2 linked regions of the Homo sapiens genome follow. The protein of the gene in region 1 interacts with the protein of each later gene in a biochemical or structural test. Each region holds a gene or a part of one and is shown in the gene's direction. Other genes may lie near its edges.

Region 1 (7,141 bases):
GGCATGAGCCACCGTGCCCAGCCCCAGCACACTCTTAGGTGTATTACTAGAATTTCCAAAAGGAGGGAGGGGATGGGTCAGTGCTGCTCCTTATGGGACAAAGAATACCTTCAGTATTGTTCTAAGGATAGACCCAAGCATGAAGCTACAGAGAGTGAAAAAGTCCAAGGTACTGGGGGTGTGTGTTCTGGAGACGAGAAGCCACCAGGGAGAGGAGCGCTGCCTTCCTGTCTCATCTGAAGGAACATCATGCAGAAGAGGGCAGACAAGGGCAGCCTGTGCCTAAGCTCATTTCCAAGAAGGTTTGGGGCTCCCAGCCATTCATTGTAGGTAGTAGAGGGAGCAGAGGCTTGAAAATAATGGCCAGCACTCACCCCTCTTCTCATCTCTTCAATCCGCTGAGTTCATTTCACATCAGCCTGGCCCAGCCTCCCCTGGCCTGTCTGTTTTGTCGAGCTGTCTGTGTGTGTTTCTTTCGGAGACTTCTTCCTTGCAGATAAGAGAGGGCTGAACAAATGCCCCGGCCCTGCCAAGAGCCGGTCAGGAGGTTTATTGTTTGCTGTGCCTGGAACCGTGGGTCTGCGGTGGGACTGCCTGCCTGGTAACTGGTGCCGGATCTGAGGAGGAGAATTCTGGTCATGCTTCGTGCAGGCGTTGGTGAAGCTGCGGTTTTTAAAACCAGGCTTTAAAACCATGTAGGTGCTTTACTGACCGGTCGCGGTGGCTCATTTCTGTAATCCCAGCACTTTGGAAGCCAAGGCGGGTGGATCACTTGATGTCAGGAGTTCGAGACCAGCCTGGCCAACATGGTGAAACTCTGTCTGCACTAAAAATACAAAAATTAGCCGGATGTAGTGGTGGGCATCTATCACTTGAACCCAGGAGGTGGAGGTTGCAGTGAGCCGAGATCGCGCCAGTGCACTCCGGCCTAGATGATAGAGTAAGACTCTGTCTCAAAAAATAATAATAATAAATAAAACCACGTAGGTGCTTTCAGTTCAGCCTAAGGCACTGGCCTACAGGATTTATGAGATTCCCAAAGACACTCATTCTCACAGAGCTCTTAGAAGGTTCCAGAGGGACACAGTTCTCTTCTGTTGGCAGCAGGGAGCAAGCAAGTACTTTTCTTACTGGAGCTACTGGTATGTGGAGCATTGTGTGTAAGCGTCCCTTCCCAGGGTGTCACTTTAGACAGCGAAGGAAACTGTCTTCTCTCTGCAGCCTGGAGAAGCAAGCTGCATGGAGCCAGGAGGAGGAGGAGAGAGGCCTTTCAGTGTATCCTGTGCAAACTTGCAGTCCGGGCAGGACTTTCCTTCTGGCTGGCTCTTCTCTGGCCCTGAGGCCGGGTGCAATTTCTGGTCTCCTTGCTAAACAAACCAGCAGTCACTTGCTCCCGCGTGTCCCTTCTGCCAGGCTCTCAGCTCGGGTCTGTTTCTCTTTCCCTTGAGGCAGCAGAATAGAAAGTCCCATGAACTTGCCCCTTGAGCCCTGACCTGAGATATTAGGTCAGGTTTCCACTTGCTGAAATCCAGAGCGTGGCTTTTAACCGTCTGAGCTTATTGTGAAGATGGCCGGCTGGTTTTCAAAGCCTTCTTTGAAGGCCTTTCTAGCCGATGTTGAAAAAGTAGGCCAATGAAATGGCCCGCAAGCAATAAATCCACAGGCCCAGCGGCATCCCTCGTCACGTTTCATCCCCATGCCTGTGACCCCAGGGACTTTCCACCTCTCCGAGGAAGCACTGAGCCATTTGCTTTGCCTTTCCAGAAAGCCATTGATCTGGTGACGAAAGCCACAGAGGAGGACAAAGCCAAGAACTACGAGGAGGCGCTGCGGCTGTACCAGCATGCGGTGGAGTACTTCCTCCACGCTATCAAGTGTGAGTCACACGAGGGGTCCTCAGGCTGCCGCACTCCAGAGGGGAGCGGAGGAGAGGGGGTGGCGCACGAGCCTCACAGGGGCCCCTCTGTGTTCCCTTTCACAGATGAGGCCCACAGCGACAAGGCCAAGGAGAGCATTCGAGCCAAGTGCGTGCAGTACCTAGACCGGGCCGAGAAGCTGAAGGATTATTTACGAAGCAAAGAGAAACACGGCAAGAAGCCAGTCAAAGAGAACCAGAGTGAGGGCAAGGGGTGAGTGTCTGCAGCGTCCGCCCAGGAACCTGGGCCCTCCTCACGGCTCCCTATCATTCCTGGCGCTCATGCTGCCTTGGACTTCCCTGTGGGAATGGTCCTCATAGTGCAGGGATGACAGTGCCAGCAGCTGCTTTCAGGGAGCATGGCCTGGAGCACTTCCATGTTCACCGTCTCATTGGATCTGACCCACAAGCCATGGGGAGAGGGGGAGCTTGGTGCAGATGGTAGAGCCTCTCAGGACGGGACCCCAGCTCTGTCACCTCCCAGCCTAGTGCCAGGACCCCGTGTGCCTACCATCTCCACATCTTGGAAGTGGGGAGGTCGTGGAACTCACCTCCGAGCGTTGCCACAGGGAGCAGTGAGATGACGTGGGCAGTGCCCTTGGAGCTTGGCACACGAGAGCATGCAATGAGTGCCAGCTGCTGTGACTGTCAAAGAGTCACCTGCCTCCAACAGGTGGGGCGGCCGGCTCGGGTTAGGAGCCCTGCCGAGGTGGCACAGGATGGAACTTGGACCCCCAAAGCAGGGCGGGTGGCCCCGATTCCCCAGCCAGGGTCCTCTCCACAGCCTCTCACCTCAGGTACTGGGTTCGCCCACCACGGTGATCCCAGTCATATGAACACAAATGCTGGTGGTATCTCGGAGGCGTGGGAGGGGAAGTGAGGGGGTCCCCCAGGCAGGAGAGGGGTGGGTGGTGTCAGCTGCCTCACCAGAGGCGAGGCCTCCTCCTGGATGGAGGGTCTGCACCACGTTCCCATCCGCAGAGGGAGAGGTCTGGCGAGGCAGGGGTGGAGGCCAGGGATCTCCAATAAGGATTAAATCAAGTTTTGAGGATGACAGATTCCATCCAGGGAGGAAGTAGCCCTGGGGTGACAGTGGCTGCGTTCTCCCCAGGAGTTCCCTTTCGATTTCGGTTTTGCTTTCTCCTCTGTCCTTCGGCAGTGGCTGCTTTGGAGTCAGGGGCACATGCTGTCCCTGAGTCTCTACAAAAAGCTTCTGGTGCGGGGCATGGTGGCTCACACCTGTAATCCCAGCACTTTGGGAGGCCAACGCGGGCAGATCACTTGAGGTCAGGATTTCAAAACCAGCCTGGCCAACATGGTGAATCCCGTCTCTATTAAAAATACAAAAAAATAGGCCGGGCGCGGTGGCTCACGCCTGTAATCCCAGCACTTTGGGAAGCCGAGGCGGGCGGATCACGAGGTCAGGAGATTGAGACCATCCTGGCTAACACGGTGAAACCCCGTCTCCACTAAAAATACAAAATATTAGCCGGGCGTGGTGGCGGGCACCTGTAGTCCCAGCTACTCAGGAGGCTGAGGCAGGAGAATGGCGTGAACCCGGGAGGCGGAGCTTGCAGTGAGCCGAGATCGAGCCACTACACTCCAGCCTGGGCGACTGAGTGCGACTCTGTCTTAAAAAAAAAATTAGCCAGGCATTGTGGCATGTGCCTGTAATCCCAGCTACTCGGGAGGCTGACGCCAGAGAATTCAGAGAATTACTTGAACCCGGGAGGCGGAGATTGCAGTGAGCTGAGATGGAGATTGTGCCATCGCACTCCAACCTGGGCACCATCTCAAAAAAAAAAAAAAAAAAAAAAGAAGCTTCTGGCAGCTGCATTGTTTGACTGGCTTTTTTTTTTTTTTTTCCCCCAGACAGGGCTTCACTGTCTCCCAGGCTGGAGTGCAGTGGTGCGATCTTGGTTAACTGCAACCTCTGCCTCCCAAGTAGCTGGCACCATAGGTGCGTGCCACCATGCTTGGCTAATTTTGTGTTTTTTGTAGAGACAAGATCTCGCTGTTTCCCAGGCTGGTCTCAAACTCCTGGGCTCAAGCGATCCTCCCGCCTCAGCCTCCCAGAGTGCTGGGATTACAGGGGTGAGCCACCGCACCCAGCCTGGGCTGTGAGAGCCACTGCAGGTGGCCTCCCAGAGTATGAGGTGTGAGTCACCGCACCTGGCCTGGGCTGCTCTTTAAGTCCAGCTGAAGCACATTTCCCTTACGGCCTTCAGGAGAGGGCCGACCCGGATTCCCATCTGCTCCGCGAAGAAACAGGGCGGGTTATAGGAGTGTTTGCTGGGGGGGTCCTGAAGTGAGCTGCTGAGAGCATTGGCCCAAATGTCCCTGAAGTACTTGCTTGAGTCACACGGCACTGTTAAGCCAGGAAGGCTTCGTTCCTTAACCAGTGTGCAGGCAGCGGAGCCTGGACTTGCTGGGAGCACCTCTGTGCTCCAGGCTGAAGGGCCAGCTTGTGACTTTCCGTCTCCCTTCCCAGCAGTGACAGTGACAGTGAAGGGGATAATCCGGAGAAAAAGAAACTGCAAGAACAGCTGATGGGTAAGTGGCTCGCGGCCCTGTGGCAGCGGCAGGGGATGAGAGTGGGTCCGCTGCTGGGTTGGCTCATGCCCCTTGGCCGGGCCCGGGCCCGGGCCGGCCTCCCTCTCGCAGGTGCCGTCGTGATGGAGAAGCCCAACATACGGTGGAACGACGTGGCCGGGCTGGAGGGGGCCAAGGAGGCCCTCAAAGAAGCTGTCATTTTGCCAATCAAATTCCCACACTTGTTCACAGGTGAGAGTTGAGCCATTTCAAACCCCAATGTAAAAATTCCAGGCTTCCGCAGGGCTGGCACTCCGAGGCACCCGGGAGTCAGTGGCGACTCAGCCCCCGGGGCCTGCAGAGGGCCAGGCCTGGCTGCTCGCTGGTGTCCACAACACTGCTGTGGCTGGAGCTATGAGATGACGATCACGTCACAGGGTGGGGGCAGGATCAGGAAGCAGTGCCAGCCGGTGTCACTGTGCAAGGTCATGGGGTCATAGCAGGGGCACTGTGCAAGGTCATGGGGTCATAGCACAGGGCACAGCAGGGAATGTAGCTCCCATCACTTGTTTGCCAGTAGAGTCCGTTGTTTCACAGAATGCCCTGTTTTACTGTATGTATGGGACTCGAGACCCTCTGCTTTTCCTATTCCTTTCCCCAGTCAGGAGGCCTAACTTCTGTGGTTCTCTGTTGCAGGCAAGCGCACCCCCTGGCGGGGGATTCTGCTGTTCGGACCCCCTGGCACAGGGAAATCCTACCTGGCCAAAGCCGTGGCAACAGAGGCCAACAACTCCACCTTCTTCTCTGTGTCCTCCTCAGATCTGATGTCCAAGTGGCTGGGGGAGAGTGAAAAGTAAGTCGGCCACCAGGCCATGCTCTGCCAGCAGCCCCGGCACTGCTAGTGACCCAGCGGCCCACCCTGTGGAGTCACCTCTCAGAGGAGTGGTTTGGTTTTCAGGGAGGGTACCCAAGAGCAGTGTGTCGCTAGCTTATCGGCTGGGACACAGTCCCAACAAAGACAAGTGAAGGTGGAAGGGACCTGGGAGAGGTGAAGTGCTCCACAAGAGAAGGGAAAGGAAGTGAGGATATTTTTGGGGTCTGGGTTGCGGTCCCTGTTGGGGCAGTGTGTGGGGGACATGGTTCCCCACACTGACTCCTGTTTTGCGTGTGATGAGACGGGCTCGGAAGAAGGGGACTGACGTGTTGTAAGTGCAGAGCTAGCGCATGGGGCTCCTGGGATTGAGGCTCTGCGTTTGGGGCTGACACCAAGGTGTGCTCCTCCTCTTGGTGCAGTGTGGCCCGAGGGCTCCTCACCACCACGTTTTCCGCAATTCCGGCATGACCGTGGCCTGCGCCTCCCTGTGGGAAGGGTGAGAAGAGGGAAGTGCCGGGAGCCCAGGCGGGCACGGACGTGAACGTCTTGTCCTCACCCCCTTTCTCACCTTCACAGGCTGGTCAAGAACCTGTTTGAGCTGGCCAGGCAGCACAAGCCCTCCATCATCTTCATCGATGAGGTGGATTCCCTCTGCGGGTCCCGAAATGAAAATGAGAGTGAGGCCGCCCGGAGGATCAAAACGGAGTTCTTGGTCCAGATGCAGGGTGTGTGCCGGGCCCAGGGCCCCCTTGGTTCTTGTTGCACCTGAAGCCAACCCTGGGCTTTATTCTGAGCTGCGGCTGGATTTGGTTGTTCTCAGCCTCGGAGAGGCACTCCCCAGCTCCAGCCCCTCAGGGCACGGGTGGACTTCAATTCCCAAGAGGTGCCTGAGGCCTCTGCCTCACGGGCCACTCCACCCCTCCCATGGCAGGCAGTGCCATAGGTCTCACCTGGCACAGCCAGACCAAGATGTGGTTTAATCTCACTTGGGACCCTGCCAGTGGTGGGTGGCACAGGGATGGCTTCAATTGCTGACACACAAAGCCCCCGGGGTCTGTCCCCAGGTTTCAACTGACCCGTGCAGGTGTCCAGAGTCTGAGTCTTTGTCTCCCTTTCTCCACAGGGGTGGGGAATAACAATGATGGGACTCTGGTTCTTGGAGCCACAAACATCCCATGGGTGTTGGATTCGGCCATCAGGAGGAGGTGAGTCTTCCCCAGGAGAAGCCAGGGCTGGAGGCTTCCTCCCACCATGGTCACGGTCCGCCTGCTGCTGGCAGCCCGGGTGCAGCCTGGCCCCTTTTCCCTGGAGTCTTCCCGTCTGCCTGCCAAGCAGAGCCCTTTGTGAGGCTGGCTTGTTGAGGATGTGCCGCCAGCATCACTGGCCCATGAAATGCGTCCGTTTCACTCAAATCTTCGTGCCTCCCCTTCCGTGAATACCATTCCATCATCCGCTGTCAACTCCTGCCGTGTGCTGGGCTCTCTAGGTTTGAAAAACGAATTTATATCCCCTTGCCGGAGGAAGCTGCCCGCGCCCAGATGTTCCGGTTGCATCTCGGGAGCACTCCCCACAACCTCACGGATGCAAACATCCACGAGCTGGCCCGGAAGACGGAAGGCTACTCGGGCGCGGACATCAGCATCATCGTGCGGGACTCTCTCATGCAGCCCGTGAGGAAGGTGCAGTCGGCCACACACTTCAAAAAGGTGAGTGCCCGCGGCCACTGCTGAGAAAAATCTCATAGTAAGAGCGGGATGTTCGGTTTTTTTTTTCCCAGCTCCTGGTCCTGCTCCCCGGCTGCTCAGGTGACACAGTCTCTG
Region 2 (3,565 bases), on another chromosome or scaffold:
GAGCATGAAAGGCAGCCGCGTGGAGCGCGCGGAAGAGGCACTTGCCCACATGGGCAGCTCCGTGAGTACCCTGAGCAGGGCCACGCCGGCAGAGTCGCACCACAAAGTAATCCTCCTCAGTGACTGAAGAGTCTGGATCCTGTACTTACAAAGCAGCTTCTAAGGATTGCAAGCTTTCAGGCAATTCATGAATTAGCTGCCACATCGTGGACAGAACGGACGTTCTGTGGAACTGTACCTGTTGGTACGGCTCCTTTTTAGGTGGCAGTGTGCTGAAGCAGGAAAATAACAGACAAGTTAAACATGAGACAGCTGGCAGTCTTTCCCATTTAAAATGCAGGGGAGCCCGGGCCAGAACCCAGCGTGTGATGTGCGGTTGGTGCCTGGAGAGTCGTCTTGGTTCAACTCTACACCCTGGCTTAGCCTATCTCTTTACCACTGTAGAAAATACCTGGTAAAGAGTAAAAACTAAAACTTTGTTTCGTAACACTTTTAAATATTTAAGTTTTCACCTGAGAATATAAAGAAAGATAATCAATTGGGAGACACGATGCAGTGTCTGTGCAGAATACACAGCTTTTAACTTGGTCATACCTCTCCCCCAGGATCATAAGGCAGCAAATAGTGTTAGGTAGTAGATGATGCTACCTGGGTTCAGTTCCCATTGCTTTGAACCTTGAATATTAAGAAATCCCCATAAGGGCTGGCCACGGTGGCTCATGCCTATAACCCCAGCACTTTGGGAGGCCAAGGCTGGCGGACCACTTGCGGCCAGGGGTTCGAGACCATGGCCAACATGGTGAAACCCCATCTCTACTAAAAACACAAAAATTAGCCAGGCATGGTGGCGTGCACCTGTTTAATCCCAGCTACTCAGGAGGCTGGGGCAGGAGAATCACTTGAACCTGGGAGAAATCCTTGTAAGGAAGTGTTTTTGTTCAATTACAGGTTGGTAAAAGTGGTTTCTAACACAGTATCTCTTCTTTTAGGTGTTCAGTGGAATCACACTTACAAAATTTGGAGGGATTGTGGTGTTGGCTTTTGCCAAATCTCAAATTTTCCAGATATTCTACTTCAGGATGTATTTGGCCATGGTCTTACTGGGAGCCACTCACGGATTAATATTTCTCCCTGTCTTACTCAGTTACATAGGTAAGAGTTCTCATCTTAAAAGGGTGGCACAATAGAAGGACATTACTGAAAGGGAATTCTATCCTGAGGCATTCTTTTCAAGTATTTGAACTCATACTAATGGTCATTTGATAATGATAAATGATACTGAGTAAAAAAATTTCTTCTAAAAGAAAAAACCCATCCAGGGGATTCATGATGGTGCAGACTACTTTATTAGGAAGTTGTCGATGTTTTTTCTGGAGGCCTGATCTGTCTGCTTCACAAAGGCCTGGAGCCAGTCCTTGAATGGATCTGAGTGTCAGCAGGCAGGGCAGCTCCTCCCTGCCACTGAGATGAAGGAGTCCATCTGGCAGCCAGCTCTCACACCAGCAGTGCTGCAGAACAGCTTTTTATGTCCCTCATGGATTTCCCGTTTCTTAGCAAAGTGCTTGCTGCCTTTCTTCATCTCGAGACTGTCCTTGATCCTTTTACTTCTATGGCCACTTCACCTTGCACAAAAATGACCCACGGTTGAAAGAACAATACTGATTTGCTTCATTTATAGCTTTGTCACTAAATTGAAGCACTGAAGTAGAAGATTAAGAAAATGAGGGGCTTTTTATCATCTCCGGGGGATAGAAAGTAGTTCTATTACAATCTAATATACTAGTTCCTTTTAAGAAAAAAAAAAAAAAAAAGAGATGAGCACTTTGGAAGGCTGAGACAGGAGAATCGTTTGAGACCAGCCTAGGCAACATAGTGAGGCCTCCATCTCTACAAAAATAAAATTAGCCAGGTGAAGTGGTGTGCGTCTGCAGTCCCACCTACTTGTTAGGCTGAGGCAGGAAGCTTGCTTGAGCCCAGAAGGGTGGGCTTAGGATGCAGTGAGTCGTGTTCATACCACTGCACTGCAGCCTGAGGAAGAAAGCAAAGAGCCCATCTCCAAAAGAGAGGGAGAGAGATGTGGTCTCACTCTGTTGTCCAGGCTGGTCTCAAGCAATTCTCCTGCCTCAGTCTTCCAAAGTGGGATTACAGGCGTGAGCCACTATGCCCAGCCAACTAGCTCCCTTTCTCCTGCAGAAATAAGAAAAAGTCTCTCTCTCTCATAGGGCCATCAGTAAATAAAGCCAAAAGTTGTGCCACTGAAGAGCGATACAAAGGAACAGAGCGCGAACGGCTTCTAAATTTCTAGCCCTCTCGCAGGGCATCCTGACTGAACTGTGTCTAAGGGTCGGTCGGTTTACCACTGGACGGGTGCTGCATCGGCAAGGCCAAGTTGAACACCGGATGGTGCCAACCATCGGTTGTTTGGCAGCAGCTTTGAACGTAGCGCCTGTGAACTCAGGAATGCACAGTTGACTTGGGAAGCAGTATTACTAGATCTGGAGGCAACCACAGGACACTAAACTTCTCCCAGCCTCTTCAGGAAAGAAACCTCATTCTTTGGCAAGCAGGAGGTGACACTAGATGGCTGTGAATGTGATCCGCTCACTGACACTCTGTAAAGGCCAATCAATGCACTGTCTGTCTCTCCTTTTAGGAGTAAGCCATCCCACAAGTTCTATACCATATTTTTAGTGACAGTTGAGGTTGTAGATACACTTTATAACATTTTATAGTTTAAAGAGCTTTATTAATGCAATAAATTAACTTTGTACACATTTTTATATAAAAAAACAGCAAGTGATTTCAGAATGTTGTAGGCCTCATTAGAGCTTGGTCTCCAAAAATCTGTTTGAAAAAAGCAACATGTTCTTCACAGTGTTCCCCTAGAAAGGAAGAGATTTAATTGCCAGTTAGATGTGGCATGAAATGAGGGACAAAGAAAGCATCTCGTAGGTGTGTCTACTGGGTTTTAACTTATTTTTCTTTAATAAAATACATTGTTTTCCTAAGTTTTGGGGTTACCCTATCTGCTTTGAGAGACAAATACAAAAGCTAAATGGAAGAGATTCTATCTAACCTGTCCTTATGGTAACTAAATGCCGTCTTACATTGAGCTAGAAATAGACCTAGAAGTTTCATTAGACAGCCCTGATCCTTCCCTATCCTAAAGATGATGTCTTAGGTTGTATAACTATTTGGAGATGAGAATGATCAACCAGGGCCAGGTGCGGTGGCTCAAACCTGTAATCCCAGCACTTTGGGAGGCTGAGGCAGGCGGATCATGAGGTCAGGAGTTTGAGACCAGCCTGGACAATATAGTAAAACCCCATCTCTACTAAAAATACAAAAATCAGCCGGGTGTGGTGGCACGCACCTGTAGTCCCAACTACTCAGGAGGCTGAGGCAGAAGAATCGCTTGAACCCAGCGGAGGTTGCAGTGAACCGAGATCACACCACTGCACTCCAGCCTGGGCAACGGAGCGAGACTCTGTCTCAAAAAAAAAATGAGAATGATCAACCAATGTATACTTCATAAAACTGAAACCTTAATAAGCCCCAGACCCTT

Evidence for each region. The genes of interacting proteins can lie anywhere in the genome.
Region 2: the proteins of VPS4A (region 1) and NPC1 form a complex in vitro, tested with the Homo sapiens proteins (one study listed by BioGRID).

What each region holds. Positions count from the first base shown.
Region 1 is NC_000016.10:69,314,244-69,321,384, forward strand, and holds part of VPS4A (vacuolar protein sorting-associated protein 4A), read left to right. Parts: intron 1-1,764; coding exon 1,765-1,876; intron 1,877-1,981; coding exon 1,982-2,129; intron 2,130-4,406; coding exon 4,407-4,468; intron 4,469-4,579; coding exon 4,580-4,699; intron 4,700-5,143; coding exon 5,144-5,300; intron 5,301-5,897; coding exon 5,898-6,046; intron 6,047-6,444; coding exon 6,445-6,526; intron 6,527-6,807; coding exon 6,808-7,027; intron 7,028-7,141. UniProt on the Homo sapiens protein: Involved in late steps of the endosomal multivesicular bodies (MVB) pathway. Recognizes membrane-associated ESCRT-III assemblies and catalyzes their disassembly, possibly in combination with membrane fission.
Region 2 is NC_000018.10:23,530,942-23,534,506, reverse strand, and holds the end of NPC1 (NPC intracellular cholesterol transporter 1 precursor), read left to right. Parts: coding exon 1-61; intron 62-989; coding exon 990-1,152; intron 1,153-2,222; coding exon 2,223-2,305; 3' UTR 2,306-2,802; coding exon of another isoform or gene 2,803-2,882; 3' UTR 2,883-3,065; downstream 3,066-3,565. Other genes in the region: RMC1 (regulator of MON1-CCZ1 complex), read right to left, coding at 2,803-2,882. UniProt on the Homo sapiens protein: Intracellular cholesterol transporter which acts in concert with NPC2 and plays an important role in the egress of cholesterol from the endosomal/lysosomal compartment.